Regions from separate parts of the Homo sapiens genome. Here region 2 is linked to region 1. Evidence: fine-mapped expression QTL. Tissue or cell type: cerebellum. Region 1 holds a variant in brackets; the other region holds the start of a gene. All regions are shown on one strand. Distances are between the middles of the regions.

The links. PIP is the estimated chance that this variant, and not a neighbour inherited with it, causes the effect.
Region 2: TRNT1 starts here. The variant in region 1 is fine-mapped to the expression of TRNT1 in cerebellum (GTEx, PIP 0.98).

Annotation. Positions count from the first base shown.
Region 1 is chr3:3,174,405-3,184,472 of GRCh38, forward strand. CRBN (cereblon) reads right to left here and starts at 5,287. Exons shown (of 11, transcript NM_016302.4): 1 at 5,217-5,287; 2 at 759-865. The coding sequence starts at 5,283. RefSeq lists a silencer at 5,351-5,520. The variant T/G (reference allele first, on the strand shown) is at 4,330.
Region 2 is chr3:3,121,149-3,131,229 of GRCh38, forward strand. TRNT1 (tRNA nucleotidyl transferase 1) reads left to right here and starts at 5,792. Exons shown (of 8, transcript NM_182916.3): 1 at 5,792-5,842; 2 at 7,866-8,040. The coding sequence starts at 7,893. It overlaps LOC124909339 (a long non-coding RNA gene), which reads right to left and starts at 5,683. Exons shown (of 2, transcript XR_007095786.1): 1 at 5,412-5,683; 2 at 849-1,490. RefSeq lists a silencer at 5,496-5,915 and enhancers at 6,123-6,853, 6,276-6,355.

The sequences.
Region 1 (10,068 bases):
CCGAGGTAGGCGGATCACCTGAGGTCAGGAGTTCAAGACCAACCTGGCCAACATGGTGGAACCCTGTTGCTACTAAAAATACAAAAATTAGCCAGGTGTGGTGGTGGACACCTGTAATCCCAGCTAATCGGGAGGCTGAGGCAGGGGAATCACTTGAACCTGGAAGGTGGAGGCTGCAGTGAGCTGAGATTGTGCCACTGCACTCACTCGAGCTTGGGCGACAGAGCAACACTCTGTCTCAAAAAAAAAGAAAAAAATACAAATGGGGTTACAAACACTTAATAAACGTGGTATATAAGCATCCCATGTTAAAATATAATTTTTAATCTAACTTTAACTCTTAGAAGAATTTCTAATCTTTTATGAATATATCACAAACACAGAAATTCAAGAATTTTTTTAGTACAAAGTATTATTTTTACCAAGAAATATCTCTATGCCCACATATCACAAACAGTAAGTATAAAATGTTAGTATGTTCAATAACACTCTAGTACCTAGAAGTACAGAGAAGTATTTAATAGCTCAATTACCAGAAAGAGTATAAAGAGCAACAATTCCTCAAACAATTCTACCACAACATAGTATTAAGCTTCTTAAAAATTACAGTTAAATGTTTATCTACTGGCAAATAGCCCATGTCCTCATCCACAATTTCTGATATCTAGTAATACAAATATCAGTCACTTGTTTTTATGAACTTTTATCTACATTTAAATGTATATCTATTATATTAGATCTGTCACTAAATTACATACTGTATGTGATGTCGGCAGACTGGTGTCAAAATTTATGATGTTTGGTTTTTTGGCTTCTTTACTATCCTGGTCTTCAACTTCCATTTCATCTTCTTCCTCACTCTCTGCTATAAAAGTAGAATATTGTAAGAAAAAAAAAAAGATGAATGAAAACCTTTCAAACATGTAATTCCTTCTTCAAAAGAGGGGTACTTCTAAAACCACATGCATTTGGTAAACTCTACAGCACCGTGAAGAGGGAGCCAGAGGACTGGGGTCCGTGCTGGGCTCTGTCAGTAGCTATTTTTTTTTTTTAAGTCAACTGTGAATTTTAGAATAGTTTAACATTTACAGAGAAGTGTAAAGATAGTACAGAATGCTCCCGTGTGTCACACATCCTTTTCCCCTATAGTTAATTTATATTAGTATGGTACATTTGCCACAACGAAGGAATCAGTCTTGGTACATTACTCTAACTAAGCTTCATATTTTAAATGGATTCCCTTAGTTTTTATCTAGTCTTTTTGCGTTCCAGGATCCCACTTTACATTTAGTTATCAGGTCCCCCTACCCTCCTCTGGGCTAGGGGGGTTTTCAGACTTTGCTTGTTTCTGAGTTTTGAGGAGTACTGGTCAGGCCTTTTGTAGAGTATCCCTCAACTGGGTTTTGTTTGATGTAATTCCCATGATTAGACTGAGGATACGTGTTTTAGGGAGGAAGACCACAGAAGTGAAGTGTTGTTATTCTTTTCCTTTTTAGAAATGGGGTCTGTTGCCAATGTGCTGTTTTTATTACATATCCAGCCTATATATTATGAACTATTCCTGCTGTTAACCTTGATCACCTGGCTACAGCAGTGTGTGTCAGGTTTTTCCGCTGTAAAGTTCCTTTCCCCCCTCCTTTTCACATTGTACCCTTCGGAAGCAAATCACTAGGTGTAGCCTCCACTTCAGGGGTGATGAGTTATGCTCCACTCCCTTGAAGAGGAAATGTAAGTTATTTAAAATTCTTCTATATGGGAGATTTTTCTCTTCTCCCTCACCAGTAACTAATTTTAACACCTTAGACAACTCATTCTGCCCAATTAAATTTTAGTTTCCTCATCTGCAAAATGATAGGCTTCAACAAGTCAACCTCTAACGTTCTCTCAAACTCTCAACTTCAATCAGTTCCTACATAAGTAAGAAAAGAAACAAAGCAGGCAAGATCTGTTAATTAAAACTGAGAGAAAGATAACCTAGCAGGAAGAATTTCACAGCATTTTTCTAGTGACAACATTTCCCTGGCAGTCGCTACATTATCTTAAAATGAAGGCCAGGTGTGGTGGCTCACACCTGTAATCCCAGCACTTTGGGAGGACGAGGCAGGCAGATCACTTGAGGTCAGGAGTTCAAGACCAGCCTGGCCAACATGTTGCAACCCCATCTCTACTAAAAACACAAAAGTTAGCCGGGTGTGGTTGTAGGTGCCTGTAATCCCAGCTACTGGGGAGGCTGAGGCAGGAGAATCGCTTGAACCCAGGAGGTGGAGGTTGCAGTGAGCTGAGATTGTGCTATTGCACTCCAGCCTGGGCGACAGAGCAAGACTCCATCTCAAAAGAAAGAAACAAAGAAAATTTTGCAATCATTTGCATACTATTTTGCTTAATTTTAAATTTAAAAATAAAGTTTGCATGAAGCATAAAACATTTTAAAAGAATGTCTTAGAAAACCAGATGTTACCAATGACAGCAAAGAAAATTAGAAAACGCTACACAATACATATGCTATTGTACTAACTGTGAGTCTGTCCTTTTCATACAAACTATGAGTAAATTTCCTATCCTAGACCAGTGACTCTCAACCACAGGTGATTTTGCCCCTCAGGGGATATTGGTTGCAATAACTAAGGGAGTCCTACTGGCATCTAGTGGGTAGAGGCCAGGGATGCAGCTAAATATCCTACAATGCACGAGACAATCCCACCCAAAGAATTCTCCAGCCCAAAAGTCCAGTGCTGAGGTTGGGAGACCCTGGCCTAGACTAACAATAAAGAATTACTGAATCTCATTTCTCACCTCCCAGTTCATGTATTTTTAAATGCCCCAAATAAACTTCTAAATCGATAAAATGTCATTACGAAATAATCATTTGTTTTCCTTTGCATATCATTATTTAAGTCAAACCACCTCTAGCCAGGCCCCTGACAGAAAATAAAAATGATTTTCAATATGGTAACTGCCTTGGACTTTCTATTTATTATTACAACTTCCTAGATATAAAACTTTGTCAAAAACAGAATTACTTCAACTTATATGTAAATAGCCAATGGTCTAACACTTCATACAAATTTTCCTTGGAACATGTAAGTTTCACTGAGATAAAAAAAGAGCTATCTAAATGGATGACAAAAATATTCTGCATCAAATTGTTTGTATTTCCAACTCTGACAGTATGGCTATCACTTGGCATGCAGCACAACCCACTTTATTGCTCTACTACAGAAAGTTTAAAAGATAAACTATTAGCTCAAAGGCTGGAATTAATATTGTTAAAAATTTACATTTTAACTGTTCTGACTCCTAGTCTCTAAATAATTTCTTTAGTAACCTTTTTTTCATAAATATGGCTAAAAACCACTTTCCCCTACTCAGTTATGTTTATTAATGTTTCATTTGCCTAGGATAAACTCTTCACATCTCAAATATAAAGCTTTTTGTTGGAACTTAGAGGATTTACTCTTCAGAACAACTCGTACTACATGGAATTATGGAAAGCCCAGTGTTTCCCTACAAATAAAATTTACGTAATTTGGAGAGGCATTATTGCTATATCTACACCATCTCTGGGCCCTCTCCCGACGCTTTTCTGAAAAACAAAAAACAAAACAAAACAAACAAAAAAAAAACAAACAAAAAACCACGCTGACTGTTCAGAGCTATCAGTGAAGTCTGATGACTCATCTCATGCAGAGGCACGATGTGAATGTCGACAGAAGATCAGTATCCTCCCTCTTCTATTCACCATTCTCCCTGAAACACCGGATTTGGCACAGAGAGTAGGGCTAATGTCTCTGAAAAAATAGCTCAGCTTTCCATCAAAGGCTGGCACACTTACCCTTGTGTCAACTCAGCTAGAATGGCTTCGAGAACAACCAGTGACTATGGTTTATTTTTACAGAAAAGTTCTCTCCTATATGGTGGGCACGCACTCAGTCTCTTCCTCTTTTAATCCATGCTGCTACCAGTGGACAAATTAATCTTCCAAGCATAGATTTCTTTAGGCAATTACCTGAAACCTAAAACTGTTTCTTGGCAATCCACAGGAAAAACCCAAACCCACTGGCAAGAGATGCCAGTTTCCCAGCAACTTAGACCCAATATACCTCCTAGGCCTTATGTCCCACAACCATATCCTAAATATGTGCTTTTAGATGTCTCCTGATCTACCTGAAAGGCTTTTTCCCAAATCCTCTGACCCTTAAACAACCTCTGCCTCTGAAGAGCCACAACAGCATTCATTTATCTGGCCCTAAATCAACCGCCTCTGCAGTTGATTTACGTTTAGTTATATTCTCAGCAGCCCCGCCTAGACAGTAAACCTCAATTATCAGA[T/G]TGTGTATTACCTCTCGTTTCATCTCCACAACACCTAACATACTTGTCATATAACGAAGGGACTCAAGTAATACTTTCAAGTTTGGATGATACACCTTTTGGAAAGCATCTCTTGAAAGGCATTCCATGAAAAGTTTATGCAATATTCCATGCATTTTTTTTTTTGTTCAGTATTTCAACACAAGGCCAAAGTCTAAACATTTCACACAACATACAGGAAAAAGAAAAACTAAGTATCTCTGATTAAGCATAATCGTACATGCCTGAGAAAGACCGATAGTAAGAAAAACAAAACAGAGAAGTGGTTTAGAGATATAATGACAGACACACCCGGGTTGGAATCCTGACTCTGCTGTGTGACCTTGGGCAAGTCATTGAACTAATCTGCAAATCCAATACTCGCTTATCAAATCGGAAACTGAAAACTGATGTGGGAAGGATTAAAAGGCGACATGCATGCAAAGCGTTAACTGCACGGCTCGTAACATGGTAAGTGCTTAGTACATGTTAGCTGTCACTCTTATTAAAAGGAAGGAGACCAGCAAAAGTAACCGCTGTGAATCTGACCCGGTCCTCTAGTTTCAGAGCATTTCCTAGGAGCTAAACTCAGAACACAAGGAGGATGGAGAGGATGGGTTTCCTGTTCTTAATAGCAAATGCTCCCCCCGACACCCTGGCTCACGGCTCGGGGCAACAGAGCAGCGAAGAAAGCGCCGCGACTCCATCGCTGGCCGAGGGCCGACGTGAAGCAGCTTTCCGGTGCGGCCCTGCTGGGCTGGCTCGCCAGGCTTGGCGCCCCCACGCCCGCCTCCCAGGCCCAGCTGCACCGCTAGCGGCTCCGAGCCTCGCCCCACTCCCGACTACAGGGAACTACTCCGGGCGGTTACCAGGCAGGAGCGGCAGGTGGTTGCCCATGTTGTGCGCAGCGTCCTGCTGATCTCCTTCGCCGGCCATGTCTGTTTACCCGCAAAGGAGGCTGGGACAGGGCGGTGCCGAAGACTCCGAGGGAGGGCCCGTGTCGCGCGGCTGCCGCGCACCGGGGCCACAGCGCCCCCTGGCGGCCCCAGGGGAGCAGACGGCGGCGCGTACCCAAGCCTGAAAGTGATGGCCTAGGCGGGAGGGACAATTACAGGCCTGCGCTCCGTCCCGGGGACAGAACGCCGTCCCCTGCCATCCACGGCTGAGTGCCCGGCGTACACGCTGCAGAGCCCTCACTTTGTTCCAGCCCTTAGCATGACTTATTTAATCCTGATATTTTGCATATGGAGAAACTGAGGCTGAGAGCCTTTAGTCTCCACCTTGTTTTTAAACGAAGGGGGCAGGGAGCAAATAGAAACCTGTTCATGCAGCATTAGTTTCAATTCTTAAAATAAGAAGCATATATGTGAAGGCTGGGGAAATCCATCAGTTATTCCGAGGGTGGTTGAATTATTGCTGATTTTCTTCAGTAGTTTCAATGTATGTACATACAACTTCAATAACTTCAGTAGTTTCCATATATGTACATTACATTCCAAAATTAACAAGTATTAATCAGAAACATACTTGAAATGATGATTGCACAGAATGGAAAACGCCTTATAATTGGTAAATAAAATTGTCTGAATATAAACTAGCCTACTCATTATGACTTCAGCTATGTAAAAACAAGTCACTGTGGCAAAAAAGAAAGACTATGTAAAAAATGAAGATAATTCTGTTATAATGGTGGAGTTGTGACTGGTAAGATATTTGTTTTGGAGGGAGGACAAAAGTTTTCGTAGTGTATTTCAGTATCACTTTTTCAGCGAGGAAGGAAAACTGAAAAATCCTTAAATGAAATACAACATCTAAACATGGTAGTGGTGGTGGTGGGCGGAGGCTGAGAGGAAGCAGCAGCATTGCTCAACAGAAAAGTCATGGATCTGAGATTTGAAAAAATGATTTCAGAAAATTTGCCTCCCTGATAAGTTACAAGCAGAAAACTCCCTTGTGACAGAGGCTTGTGAATCATTCCTGTGTCATTTTGCCTCCTGTCTCCGAATCAGTCTGTGGTCTTCGTCAAATCACTTATGGCTGCGGGCCTCAATTCGCCCATTTGCAAAATAAGAACGAACCAAATAGTGTCGCCTATTTGTTCCAGTTAATAATGTCTGCAACATGAATCATAGCATCACCTTTTACGATGAGGTTAATAACAATTACATATACTACGTAATGATTTAACGGAGTTAAGGTGATCACTCCAGTCAATTGAAGGATGATTCTATGCCAGAATGCCAGCACAGAACGATGAGGGAATGGCCGGTGTATTGGTGTGCGTGTGTGTGTGCCCACGTGAAAGAGAGAGAGAACGCAAGCAAGCAGGGAGCATGCACTAAGTAATATGTGTGTGTGTTTGATGCTGTAACATTATGTCTCACTACAGTTTGTAGAATTTCAATAACCTGTGCTTACGTGCAGTAGAATTTTCTTTACACAAGCATCTAGCTTCTGAATAAGTAAGCTCTGACTTTCCAGTCTTTCTCCCCAGAGGTGATACCAGAATTGTCTGAACCCTGGGTCAATCAAGACTTCTCCGGACGAGAAAGCACAGCTGCAAGGCTGGTGGAGTCTACAAATGTGGCTGGAGAAGCACTGGCTCTTTCTCTGTTCTTTTGTGCATTGCTACAGATCACCGGAGCTCACATCTGTGTATCTTTTACTCCCCAATTCTCCTCCTCTCCTCTCCACTCTTCACATTCACCACCTGCTCCCTCCTTCATTTTATCCCTCCGGAGTCTACCTAGTCATCCACAGCTACACCTTTCAGTAGGGATAACAGATGATCATTGAACAAAAATATCTAAGCAAGCAGGTTTCTTGGATTAAGCACTGGTTATTAAAACCAAAAGGAAAACATGGTCATTTACCATTTGTTTAATTTGGTAACTTTATCCTGAAAGAAGATATCATACTGAGTTGTTCCTAACATTTCCTCTTGCTTGCGTGCAGTATCAATGGATAAGGAGCTCTGCAAGCCAGAGGGAAAAGAAATATATATGTTCATAGATCACTGTCTTACAGCTCAAGAATTAACTTTAATAGTACAGAATTAAGGGTGGTAGAAGACGGGAGAAAATGTAAATGAAAAGGACCATCGCTCTTTCCATTTCTGGCTTCTACACAATATTAGCAGCAAGGAGCACATAGACTGGGAGAGGACATTTCTGTCTCCCTTTATATTGTATTTTCTCTCTCTCTGTCTCTCTTCATATATATATATATATATAAAATTTTTTTTTCTCGAGACAGGGTCTTGCTCTGTCCCAGGCTGCAGTGCAGTGGTGCAATCTTGGCTCACTGCAACTTCCACCTCCTGGGCTCAAGTGATCTTCCTACCTCAGCCTCCAGAGGAGCTGGGACCATAGGCACCAGCCACCACGGCCAGCTAATTTTTGTATTTTTTATAGAGATGGGGTTTTGTCATGTTTCCCAGGCTGATCTTGAACTCCTGAGCTTAAATAATCTGCCCACCTCCACCTCCCAAAGTGCTGGGGTTAAGGGATTAAGGATGAGCCACCATGCCCAGCCTCTACATATTTTTTTAATGTGTTAAAGAATGCTACTACTCTGGTCTAAGCGGTTGATTATCTCTTGCCTGGAGTATGGCAATAGCACCAACACTGGTTTCTCGGCTTCTACCCTTAGCTCTCACAGTGCTTTCTCAACAAAGCAGTCTGAGCGATCCTGTTAAAACACAAGTCAGATTATGTGACTCCCCTGCTCAGTACCCTTCCTTGGCTCCCCATCTCCCTTGCAGTGGCCCTTATAATGCACAGTGGGCCCCCAATATCCTGCCCTGATGTCACTTCACTGCTGCTCTGTGGGCTCTCCCTCCCCTCCATCAACACTGATCTTCTTCTTCCACAACCACATGGACCCATGGCCACCTCAGGGCCTTTGCAATTGCCTTTTCCTTTGGCTGGAGTGCTCTCCTCCTGCATAGATGCGTGACTTTTCCCCTTGTACCTTCCAGGTCTTGGGTCAAATACCCCTTCCTTGGGGAGTCCTTCCCACACTACCCAGTGTCAGATTGTGACCCTCTTCCCACACTTCCCACCATTTTCTACCCTTCTCTGCTTCATTTGCCTTCATCAAAGCATTTCTCAACTTTTAAAATACTATGAGGCCTGGATAACGTAATGAGACCCTGTCTCCAAAATAATAATAATAGAATAATAAAATACTGTGAGGCTTACTTTTAAAAACAGTCTCATTTCTCCCCCCTCAAAGGTATAAGGTCTGAATGGGGAATTTCTGCTCCCAAGAACAGGTTCTGGCATTTAAAAGCTGCTCAAAAAATGTTCATTAAATGAAAGATGAATTGCACAGTTCTGGCAGACACCGATTTCCTACCTACTCAACAGCAATTCCTCTTTCCTTCCTTGCCAAGAACTCTGATTTTGTTTGGGGCAATAGTGTACTCTGCTATGGGGTCGTGTTTGCTGTAAGCCTGTAATAACGAGCCCACTCTATTCCTCCAAGCTCCTCTATGGCTGATGGTATCACCTGATCTGGTCCTGGCTAATGACACCTAGAGAAAGTCAGCTTGGTAGCCTCTGAGAATGAAGAGGGAAGATAACTTTTAGAAGAGATTTTCCTCCATGATGAAAGGCAAAGATATCATTCCTCCCCACTTCCATCTGGGATGAAGATTAAGACCCATATTGGTTTGATGGATAAAACCAGCCAACCTAGTCCAAAGATCCAAAATTGTTTTTAAAGGAAATTGTGGATTTTAGAAAAAGCAAAGCTAGATTAACTTGTAGGCATATTTGGTTATCATTTTTTCAATAGATGAATTCATTAATTTTGGAAGTGCATAAATCTTCCAATGCTTTCTCCCTTGAGGCAAAAGCACAGGTGAGATGTAAGCAGCTCCACGGGCATGTTCCTCTCACAGTGCCACAGTTCCCTCTGCCACTCTGTGAGACACGGGTCCCAAACAGGTGACCTCCCAAGCTAGAGACTTTCTTGCCCTGTGTGGTAATTTGAGTATTTGAATTATACGATTGCCAGCCAGCATTTGGCAATTGAAGAATACATATACCAATATTGATTTCCTGCTTCTCTTTAAAACTGGGAAGATTTGGCAACCATGAGTCAGATTCATGCATGGGAACAATGATCTCCGACTAAATAACAATGCCTGGTTTAGATGGGGCAGCCCCTGTTGGTCACAGAAGCCAACCAGCCAGTGTGTGTGTGTGTGTGTGTGTGTGTGTGTGTGTGTGTGTGTGTGTGTGTGTTACCTGCCTTGATCTGGCCTGCATTTGTGTGTGCAACCACATGTATGAGTGTGTAGCAAGTGATAGAGCAACCCCACATTGGGATTTGCCCAGGACAACCCTGGTATGTGTTTGGTGTATCAGCATAACTACCAGACCAGCCCCACCCCTTGCCCCATTCCACTCTTCAAAGTGTGCCAGTTTGTACAATAAATTGTCCTACATATAGAGTGGCAGAGGTGCTTGCAGCACTGTGATGGGGCTATGTGGACATCGTTATCTGCCTGGGGAATCCCAGTCATATTCAGCCTCCCTTGACAATGAAGGATCATAACTATGGCTCTTTAACTCCTTTGTAGCTCTCTCTGATTCAGTCACAGAGAATCATGTTCATCAACTTTCTTTGAACTATGTTAGTCGTGCTGTCACTAACTTAAAAAGTCTTTAGAATTAAATCAGGGTAATTCTCAAGTTCCCAGTCTACAGAGGC
Region 2 (10,081 bases), 53 kb before region 1:
CTGCTTTCATAGGTACATACTTCAATAATTGAATTTTCATGTTCTTAATTTTTTTTGCTAATATATAAAAATGTAATTACTTTTGGGGGGAGGCTTATTGAGGTATAATTTATAAGCAGGAAAGTTTACCTTTTAAATGTACTTGGTATGGTTTGGGTGTGTGTCCCCATTCAAATCTCTCATCAAATTGTAATCTCCAATATTGGAGGTGGGGCCTGGTGGGAAGTGACTGGATCATGGGGGTGGATTTCCCCATCAGTGCTGTTCTTCTCATAGTGAGTTGCAGTGAGATCTGGCAATTTAAAAGTGTGCAGTACCTCCCCACCACTCCTTTTTCCCACTCTGGCCATGTAAGAGGAGCCTACTTCCCCTTCACCTTCCACCATGTCTGCAAGTTTCCTGAGGCGTCCCCAACCATGAGCCGACCGAACGAACCATGAGCCAATTAAACCTCTTTTTTTTTTTTTTTTGAGACGGAGTGTTGCTCTGTCACCCAGGCTGGAGTGCAGTGGCGCGATCTCGGCGATCTCGGCTCACTGCAAACTCCGCCTCCCGGGTTCACCCCATTCTCCTGCCTCAGCCTCCCGAGCAGCTGCGATTACAGGCGCCCGCCACCACACCCGACTATTTTTTTGTATTTTTAGTAGAGACGGGGTTTCACCGTGTTAGCCAAGATGGTCTCGATCTCCTGACCTCGTGATCCACCCGCCTCGGCCTCCCAAAGTGCTGGGATTACAGGCTTGAGCCACCGCACCTGGCCTTAAACCTCTTTTCTTTATAAATTACCCAGTCGCAAGTATTTCTTTATAGCAGTGTGAGAATGGACTAATACAATACTGTTCTATGCATTATGGCAAATACAGAGTTATTTAATCACCACTATAATCAAAACATAGAACAAATCTATCACCTTTCTCTCCCCTCAAAATTCTCTCATGCGCTTTCGTAGTAAATACCTCATCCCATCTTGAGCCCCCTGGCAAGAACTGATCATTTTTTCTCTCTACAGTTTTGCCTTTTTTTTTTTTTGAGATGGATCCTTGCCCTGTTGCCCAGGCTGGAGTGCAATGGTGTCATCTCAGCTCATTGCAACCCCTGCCTCCCTGGTTCAATTGATTCTCCTGCCTCAGCCTCCCGAGTAGCTGGGATTATAGGTGCCCACCACCACGCCCAGCTAATTTTTGTATTTTTCATAGAGATGGGTTTTCACCATGTTGGCCAGGCTGGTCTTGAACTCCTGGCCTCGTGATCTGCCCACCTCGGCCTCCCAAAGTGCTGGGATTACAGGCGTGAGCCACTGTGCCCGACCTATAGTTTTGCCTTTTCTGGATGTCATATGAATGGAGTCTATTATATGCAGCCTCTTGAAAGGGGCTTTCTTCACTTGAGAGTCAGATGTGTTGCTGTGTGTATCAGCAGTTTGTTCTTTCATCTTGCTCAGTAGTATTCCATTGTATGGATATGCTCCAGGTTGCTTATCCATTCATCTGCTGGAAGAAATCTGGGTTATTTCCAGTTTGGAATAATTATAAATAAAGTGACTACACCACTCACATACACGTTTTAGTGTGAACATAAGTTTTTATTTCTCTCAGGTAAATATCTAGGAGTGGGACTGCTGGGCCATAAGCTATATGTATAGCTAGTCTTATCAGACACCAGTAAACTGTTTACCAAAGTGGCTGGGCCAGTTTGTATTCCCACCCACGGTGTATGAGAGTTGCAGTTGCTCTTCATTCTCATCAGCATTTGATATTTCCAGGTGTTTCAATTTTAGACATTCTAATGGGTATGTAAAGGTATCTCATTGTTGGCCAGGCGTGGTGGCTCGTGCCTGTAATCCCAGCACTTTGGGAGGCTGAGGCGGCAGATCACAAGGTCAGAAGTTCAAGACCAGCCTGGCCAATATAGTGAAACCCCATCTCTACTAAAAATACAAAAATTAGCCAGGTGTGGTGGCACGTGCCTGTAATCCCAGCTACTCAGAAGGCTCAGGCAGCAGACTGCTTGAACCTGGCAGGCATAGGTTGCAGTAGGCCGAGACTATGCCATTGCACTCCAGCCTAGGGGAAAGAGTGAGACTCCGTCTTAAAAAAACAAAAAGGTATCTCATTGTTGTATAATTTGTATTTCCCTAGTGATTTTATATATATATATATATAATATTTTAGACAATGTCTCACTCTGTTGTCCAGGCTGGAATGCAGTGGTGCAATCACAGCTCAATGCAGCCTGGACCTCCTGGGCTCAAAGTGTTTCTCCCACTTCAGCCTCCTGAGTAACTGGGAATACAGGCACGCAACAGCAACCCCGGCTATTAAAAAATAAATTATAGAGAAAGGGTCTCATTATATTGCCCAGGCTGGGCTCAAACTCCTGGGCTCAAATGATCCTCCCACCTTAACCTCCCAAAGTGCTGGGATTACAGGCAAGGGCCACCATATCTGGCCTCTTAGCGATTGATGAGTATCTTTATATATGTTTGGTTGCTAACCATATAGCTTCTCTTATTACGCTTATTTCTTCATATGTGATATATATTTTTATGTACTATATTTTTGCTGATAATATATAAAAATAGAATTGATTTATGTATATTAACCTGGTATCCTGAGACCTTCCTAAATTTACTTGTTAGTTCTAGTAGTAGTTTTGTCAGTTCCTATGATTTCTGTATAAACCACCATCATGTCATCTGAAAATAGGGACAATTTTACTTCCTTTTGAATTGTTACACTTTCCATATCTTTTTCTTGCTTTGTTAATGGTTATAAACTACAGACAAATGTTAAGAAGTGGTAAGATGAGGCATCCTTGCCTTCTTCCTGATATAAGGGGGAGAGTGTTCAATATATTACCACTAAGTCTGATATTGGCTATGGATTTTTCATGAATGACCTTTACTATATTGAGGAAGTCCCTTCTAATTTTTTTGGCAGTTTTTATGAGTAGGGATTGAATTTTAAGTGGTCTTTCTGCATCTATTGTGATGACAACAGTTTTTCTTTTTCAGTTAATATGGTGAATTACGTTGATTGGTTTTAGATCATTAAATACAACTTGCATTCCTTGCACTGGGGACAAACCCAAATTGATCATGATGTATTATCTTTCTATATACTGTTGGATTCAATTTCCTAACATTTTATTAAAGTTGTTTTTGTTTCTATGGTCATGTGGTATATTAAGCTGTATATTAATTTTTTTGTAGTGTTGATTTTATGTTATGCGGGTTATGCTGGCCTCAAAATGAGAGGAAAACTGTTTCCTCCTCTATTTTCTAAACAAACTTTGCACAAGACTGGAGTTCTTCCTTCCTTATGCGTTTGATAAATTTGACCACTGAAACCATCTGGGCCTGGAATTATCTTTGTGAGAAGTCTGTTGAACAACAATTCAATTTCTTTAAAAATGAAAAGCTATTCAGATTTTTAAATTCTACCCTATTTCAGTTCTGATAAATTGTCTTTTTTATAGAATTGGTGCGTTGCATCTACATTGTCAAATTAATTGGCATAAAATTGTTTATAATACCTCCTCATATATATCTACATGATCTGTAGTAATACCCCTATTTTTGTTTTATTGTCTTGGCCAGTACAGGAGGAATTCTCTTACTCTCTCTCTTTCTCCTCTCTCTCTCTCTCTCTCTCTCTCCAGTTGACCTTCCATGGCCATGGGTTCTCCATCAGTGGATTCAACCAGCCACAGGTCAAAATATTAAATAAGGCTGGGGCACCATGGCGCACGTCTGTAATCCCAGCACTTCGGGAGGCCTAGGTGGGTGGGTCACCTGAGGTCAGCAGTTCAAGACCAGCCTGGCCAACATGGTGAAACCCCGTCTCTACTAAAAATACAAAAATTAGCCGGGCGTGGAGGCGGGTGCCTGTAATCCCAGCTACTTGGGAGGATGAGGCAGGAGAATCGCTTGAACCTGGAAAGCAGAGGTTGCAGTGAGCTGAGATCGTGCCACTGCACTCCAGCCTGGGCGCCAGAGTGAAACTCCATCTCAAAAAAAAAAAAAAAAATTAAATAGCAATTAAAAAACACAAAGAAGCGATATAGCATAACAACTGTTTACACAGCATTTATATCAGGTATTATAAGTAATCTAGAAATGATTTGTACTACAGAATGTGTATAGTCTATATGTAAATATTATGCCATTTTATGTAAAGAACTTGAACACTGGCTGGGGTGATGTTCTGGAACCAATACCCCATGGATACGGAAGGACAACTGTATATACACCTGCATATATAAACTATATATTTACAAGGCCAGAAATTGTTGAGGGTGCCCAGCACAGTAACTGGCACGAAGTAAGTCATCATAATAGTTGTATTAGCGTTGCCTTCATAGGTGGTGATTTGGAGAATCTATTCTAGGTGGGTACAGCAATGGAGGCTTTGGTCCAGTTTGTCTAGGGTCATGGTGGTGAGAAATAGCAGACAAGCCTGAAAGGATGATTTGGGGCTTTCCTTGCCCCAAAGAGAGAGAGAGACAGAAAATCCTTGCACCGGATGATATCAATGCTGTGCCTCTGAATGTCCATTTGGAAAGCCAGTCCTGTGCTTCCAAAAACAGGATATTCAACACCTTGAAGAGGTGTGGTAATTGCACATCTTACTTTTTACGTTTTAGGAAGTCTACAGAGAGTGGGGCTGAAAAGTTTGGGAAGAACAGGTAGGCATGTGGGGAGGGCAAAAGAACAGAAATAACATGCACAAGCATTTTTCTAGGAAAATTTTAGGGAAAGCTAAGTGATGTAAAGTTACACTTAAAAGACTACACATTTTCGGCCGGGCGCAGTGGCCGAATCCCGGCAAAAGTAATCCCGGCACTTTTGGGGGCCGAGGCCTGGGGAACACGAGGTCAGGAGTTCGAGACCAGTTGGCCAACACGGCAAAACCCCGTCTCTACTAAAAATTAGCCGGGCGTGGTGGCAGACACCTGTAATCCCAGCTACTCGGGAGGCCGAGGCAGGAGCATCGCTTGAAACCGGAAGGCGGAGGTTGCAGCGAGCCCAGATCGCGCCACCGCACTCCAGCCTGGGCGACAAGAGCGAAACTCCGTCTCAAAAACAAAACAAAACAAAAACTACACATTTTCGCACTTTAAGGGCTCAACGGCTGTATTCCCACTCCTTTGCCACTCTCTTTGCTCTTTTCCGCTCTAGAAAGAATTAATGAACTGGATCAAATCTAAGTTCTCCACGTTACAGATGGGAAGCCTCCGGGCCAAGGAGGCCAATGGTTACACAAACCAGGTAAGAAAATAAAATATGCCCAGTAAGTTCATAGGACCGGCGGGCTTAGATTTCGAATGCGCGTGACTCTGTCAACTGTGGACTTAACCCTATGCAGAGATTAGAGGAGAGAATAGTCAAACACGGATAAGTTAACATTTACCGAACAGTCCGTCCTACCCTGGGGTAGGTTTTATTAACAGTCTCGTTTTGCAAAGGAAGACAGCTGCCAGTTGTCTCAGATCGCACGGGCATGCCGCGCAGATGGGCTTCTGAGCAGCTCAGGGCCAGCCAGAGGTCTGGCGAGAAGGGCGTAATTAAACGAACCCGCGCCGGTTTCCTCAGGGCCCCCCGGGGCTCCGCTTCGCCCCAGCGGGCCTCGGCGGGGCTGGGAAACCGGCTGAGGTTCGCCTCACGGTGGGGAGGAGCGACGGGAGGCGGAAGCCCTTCGGTCCGGGCCCCGCCCCCGCACTCGCCCTCGCCCCGCCGCGACTTCCCATTCGCCGCCAACCCATGTGCGTTGGTGACGTCACCGCGTTCACCAGCCCGGAAGTGCGCGTGGCGGCGGTGGCGGCTGCGGCAACAGCGGGGCCGGTAAGCGGGCGCGCGCCGCTCAGAGGGGCAGAGTTGGTGGCGTGAGTTGCTGCCCCTTCCTTCCTGCTGTGGGCCAGAGGCGCCACCGCGCCCGGTCCTCGAGGAAGACGGGAGCGGGACGTGGCGAGAGGCCTCCTCAGCAGTGGGCAAAATAGCCCCGACGCGGAGGTCGTGTCCCCGCCACGTTTCCGGCGACCGCAGGCGCGGATTCCTTGGCTTCCCTCAGCACTTTCCCCTCCGCGCGGACGGCCCCGAGACGCTTTTTCACTGGGCCTTGTCGCCAGCACCCGGCGTGGGGGGTGAGACGCGCCTTTTCAGGGCTGGGGTTCCCCAGAGCGTTTTCCTAAGTCGAGGCGGAGGTGCGAGGAAACTGAGTGGGTCTTTCCGCCCCACGTGGCCTGCCGGGAAGCGCGGCTCCTCCACCCGCTTCCGTGGAATGGAATGGTTTTTCTCTGCAGGTTTACACCGGGGTCACTCGAGAGCTGCTGCGGCCTCCTTATGGGCAGGACCCCCGTATGGGGAGAACGAGGATGTGATATGTAGAAGGGAAGGCCGCGGTGTGCCAGAAATCAGAGGAGATTGCAAGATGGCAGGAAAAGAATCAGGAAAATGGGGGCAGCAAAACTAAATTCATGGGAAAATACAATGTCTAGGAGCTATCCCAGGGTCGTGAATCCTCGAGTGCAGGTGGGGAAGTAGGGTGATACCCACCTGTGACCATGACAAGTTTTGGAGACCAGAAACTCGGTTAGAGTTTCTAGAACCCCGCATCCCTCTCATACTGCCTGAAGCCCTGCTCTGGGGAGAGTGTCATCACAGTACCATGTGGCATGCGAGTGTCGTGGTAATGCTCCCCGACCAAACCACCAAACCGAGGGTTGGGCTGCTTATTCTCGCTGCCCAATAATGAGATGCAGATAAACTAGGAAAGAAAGGAGTTTATTTCTGTAACCAGGTACGGGGCGAAGGCGTGGAAAATATCCCAGACCGACTCAGAATTACAGAGCTTTCCAGAGCTTATATACCTTGTAAGTTGTATGTTTATGTGTAAGTGTGCATTGATCTAAAGATACAAGTGATTAACTTCTTACCCATAAGATCTGAGTCCTGAAGACCTTCCTCTGGAGCCTGAGTAAATTTACTTAATCTAAATGGGTCCAGGTGCTGGGGTGATTACCCTTATATTCTCTCCTGCTAAATCATGGAGGTTTGGGGAGTTCCCTCAGACCCCTAATAAACTTGTTCGTGGAGGCCTGGGGAGTTTCCTCAGATCCCCAGTAAAACTTGTTTAATTCTAAACGGGTCCTGTTAAGAATTCCTTTGTGGCCGGGCTCAGTGGCTCACGCCTGTAATCCCAGCACTTTGGGAGGCTGAGGCGGGCAGATCACTTGAGGTCAGGAGTTCGAGAGCAGTCTGGCCAACGTGGTAAAACCCCGTCTCTACCCAGAAGTATAAAAAATTAGCCGGATGTGGTGGTGTGCGCCTGTAATCCCTGCTACTTGGGATGCTGAGGCAGGAGAATCTCTTGAACCCAGGAGGCAGGGGTTGCAGTGAGCTGAGATCGCGCCACTGCACTCCCGCCTGAGCGACAGAGCGAGACTCCATCTCAAAAAAAAAAAAAAAAAAAAAAAGAATTCCTTTGTTATTTTATCATGCTTCAAGGTCCAGGAAAGGCCTAGGCAAAACTCTTGGGGGGCTTTTGTTACATTCTAGCCTTGTTTAAGGGCACTGGCTGGCTCTTTCAGCTTTTAATATGTAACTCAACCAGTCAGTCAGTACTGAAACAGTTATGGAGGCCTGCGCTAGTGAGACCCCGCCTGCCACAGTAAGTGCTTCTGGAGAACAAAACCAGGTAGATACATAGACCTAGTCGTAATCCCTCAAACTGACACCGTTTTCAGTTTTTTCATCTGAACAAGAGATGAATTTCTGAGTTGATAAACTTGAAATGTGTCCCCCTTTGTTTTCCTTCACTTACCTTCACTTTTAATTTCATTGGTATGCCTGTGTATTTGCCTTGTAGATGTGTAGTTGGTGACTGCCTCTCCAGATGCTGAGGTGCCTGTATCATTGGCACAGGCCAGTGCTGAACCGTAGGTGGAGTAGGCTGTGCCTTCCGAAGCAGTATCTATTCACAATGAAGTTGCAGTCTCCCGAATTCCAGTCACTTTTCACAGAAGGACTGAAGAGTCTGACAGGTGAGAGATTAGGATACCTTTTCTTGATTGGAAACCTATATAAATGGAGAAGTAGAGGGTTAACTTTTTAAGCCAGCATTCGGATATTTTCATTGTTGTTTTAATTATTTTTATTAAAAAACGTAAGTAGAGGGTCTCTTTGTGTTGCCCAGGCTGGTCTCAAAACTCCTGGGCTCACTCCTTGGCCTCCCAAAATGCTGGGATTACAGGTGTGAGCCACGGTGCCCAATGTGCACGTTTTCATTGTTGGAAGAAAGGCTTGGCTGGGTGTACCCAGCCTGTAATCTCTTGGGGAGGCCAAGGTAGGAGGATTGTTTGAGCCCAGGAGTTTGAGGCTGCAGTGAGCTATGATCATGCCACTCTAGCCTGGGCAACAGAGTGAGACCCTGTCTCAAAAAAAGAGAAAGGAATATTAAAAGAGAAAGGCTTACATATGGCTGATCCAAAAATATAGCTAAATCACTGGAAAAGGCAAGAAGTTGACTGCAGTAAAAAGCATGGCTTTTCTGTATGCTGTGCTAAGTACTTGCCATTCATTACAGGACTGGTGCTACTAACTTAATGAGTACGCACATTTTGACCTGTTACGTGAAAAAGGAAACAGATTGTTAGGCATGTGAAGTGCTTTGCCTGTGTTTCTGTAACTACTAACTAGAGAGCTAGGTTTCGAACTTACGCAGATTGATTTCAGAGCCCAGCTTGCAACCGCTAAGCTCTGTTTCCTTCCTAGGTATAAATGCTTTCCATGAGAACTGAAGGAAGAAGGAAATAGGAGTTGCCTCCATTGTGCACGTTGCAAAACCTGTCTGGAAGGAGCATAGGAAATGGCTTTAGCTAAGTGCCAGTAGCTTCTTGCTGTTGCCACAGTTTCATTAGTGTTGATTCTCAATGTTGTCTGCTGATGTTGCTAAAGCAGCCACACAGTAGCATTACAAAGCCTGTGGGAATTTTAATAGCACCTTCATAAATATATTTAGTAGTATATGTAGAAATATGACCTATACAGCACTGGCTATCTATTAGATTCACCTGGGGAGCTTTTAAAGCACACATGCTCGGGTTCTACCTGCAGCCTACTGAATTAGAATCTCTGGGTGGGATGACCATCTATATTTTTAATAAAAGCTCCACAAGTTAATTCTGATGCACAGAAGATAGACGAACCATTACTTTAACATGACTCACCTTGTATTAGCTTATTCTCAAAGCTACTTTCCCATTCTTGAAATTGGATGATGGCTTTTTAGGTACGTGCCAGAGATAAATGGCCCAGAATATGTTGATTCTTTTAGATTGTTTTAGGCAGACTTTAAGTAGAGGGCTTAAATGCATGTTTGGTTTTGCCGATGCTTCACTATCTTTTTTAATTGGAGAGAGTGAAAATTGCTAAAAATTGCTGTCCAATAGAAATTTATGAGCCCATATGTAATATAAACTTTTTTACTAACCACATTAAAAAGATAGAAATGGTGAAATAAATTTTAATAATTATTTTTGGTTCATCTAATTTAATCCAATATATCTAAGATACTATCAGTATGAATTTTGTATAAAAATTGTTAATGAGGCCGGGCACAGTGTCTCCCACCTGTAATCCTAGCACTTTGGGAGGCTGGACATGGTGGCTCATACCTGTAATCCCAGCACTTTTGAGTGGCTGAGGTGGGTGGATCACTTGAGCCCAGGAGTTTGAGACCAGCCTGGGCAACACGGTGAAACCCCATCTCTACTAAAAATATGAAAAATAGGCAAGCATACTGATATGTGTCTGTAGTCCCTGCTACTTGGGAGGCTGAGGTGGGAGGATCACTGAAGCCTGGGAGGGGGGCTTGCGGTAAGCCGAGATTGTGCCACTACACTCCAGCCTGGGCGACACAGACCGTGTCTTTAAAAAAAAAAAAAAATTAATGAGATATTTTATATTCTTACTTGGAAGTCTTTGAAGTCTGGCATGCATTTAATACAGCACATCTGAATTCAGACTTACCACATTTTAAGTGCTCAGTAAGTACAAGTGGCTGCTGTTTGAATAGTGCAGATT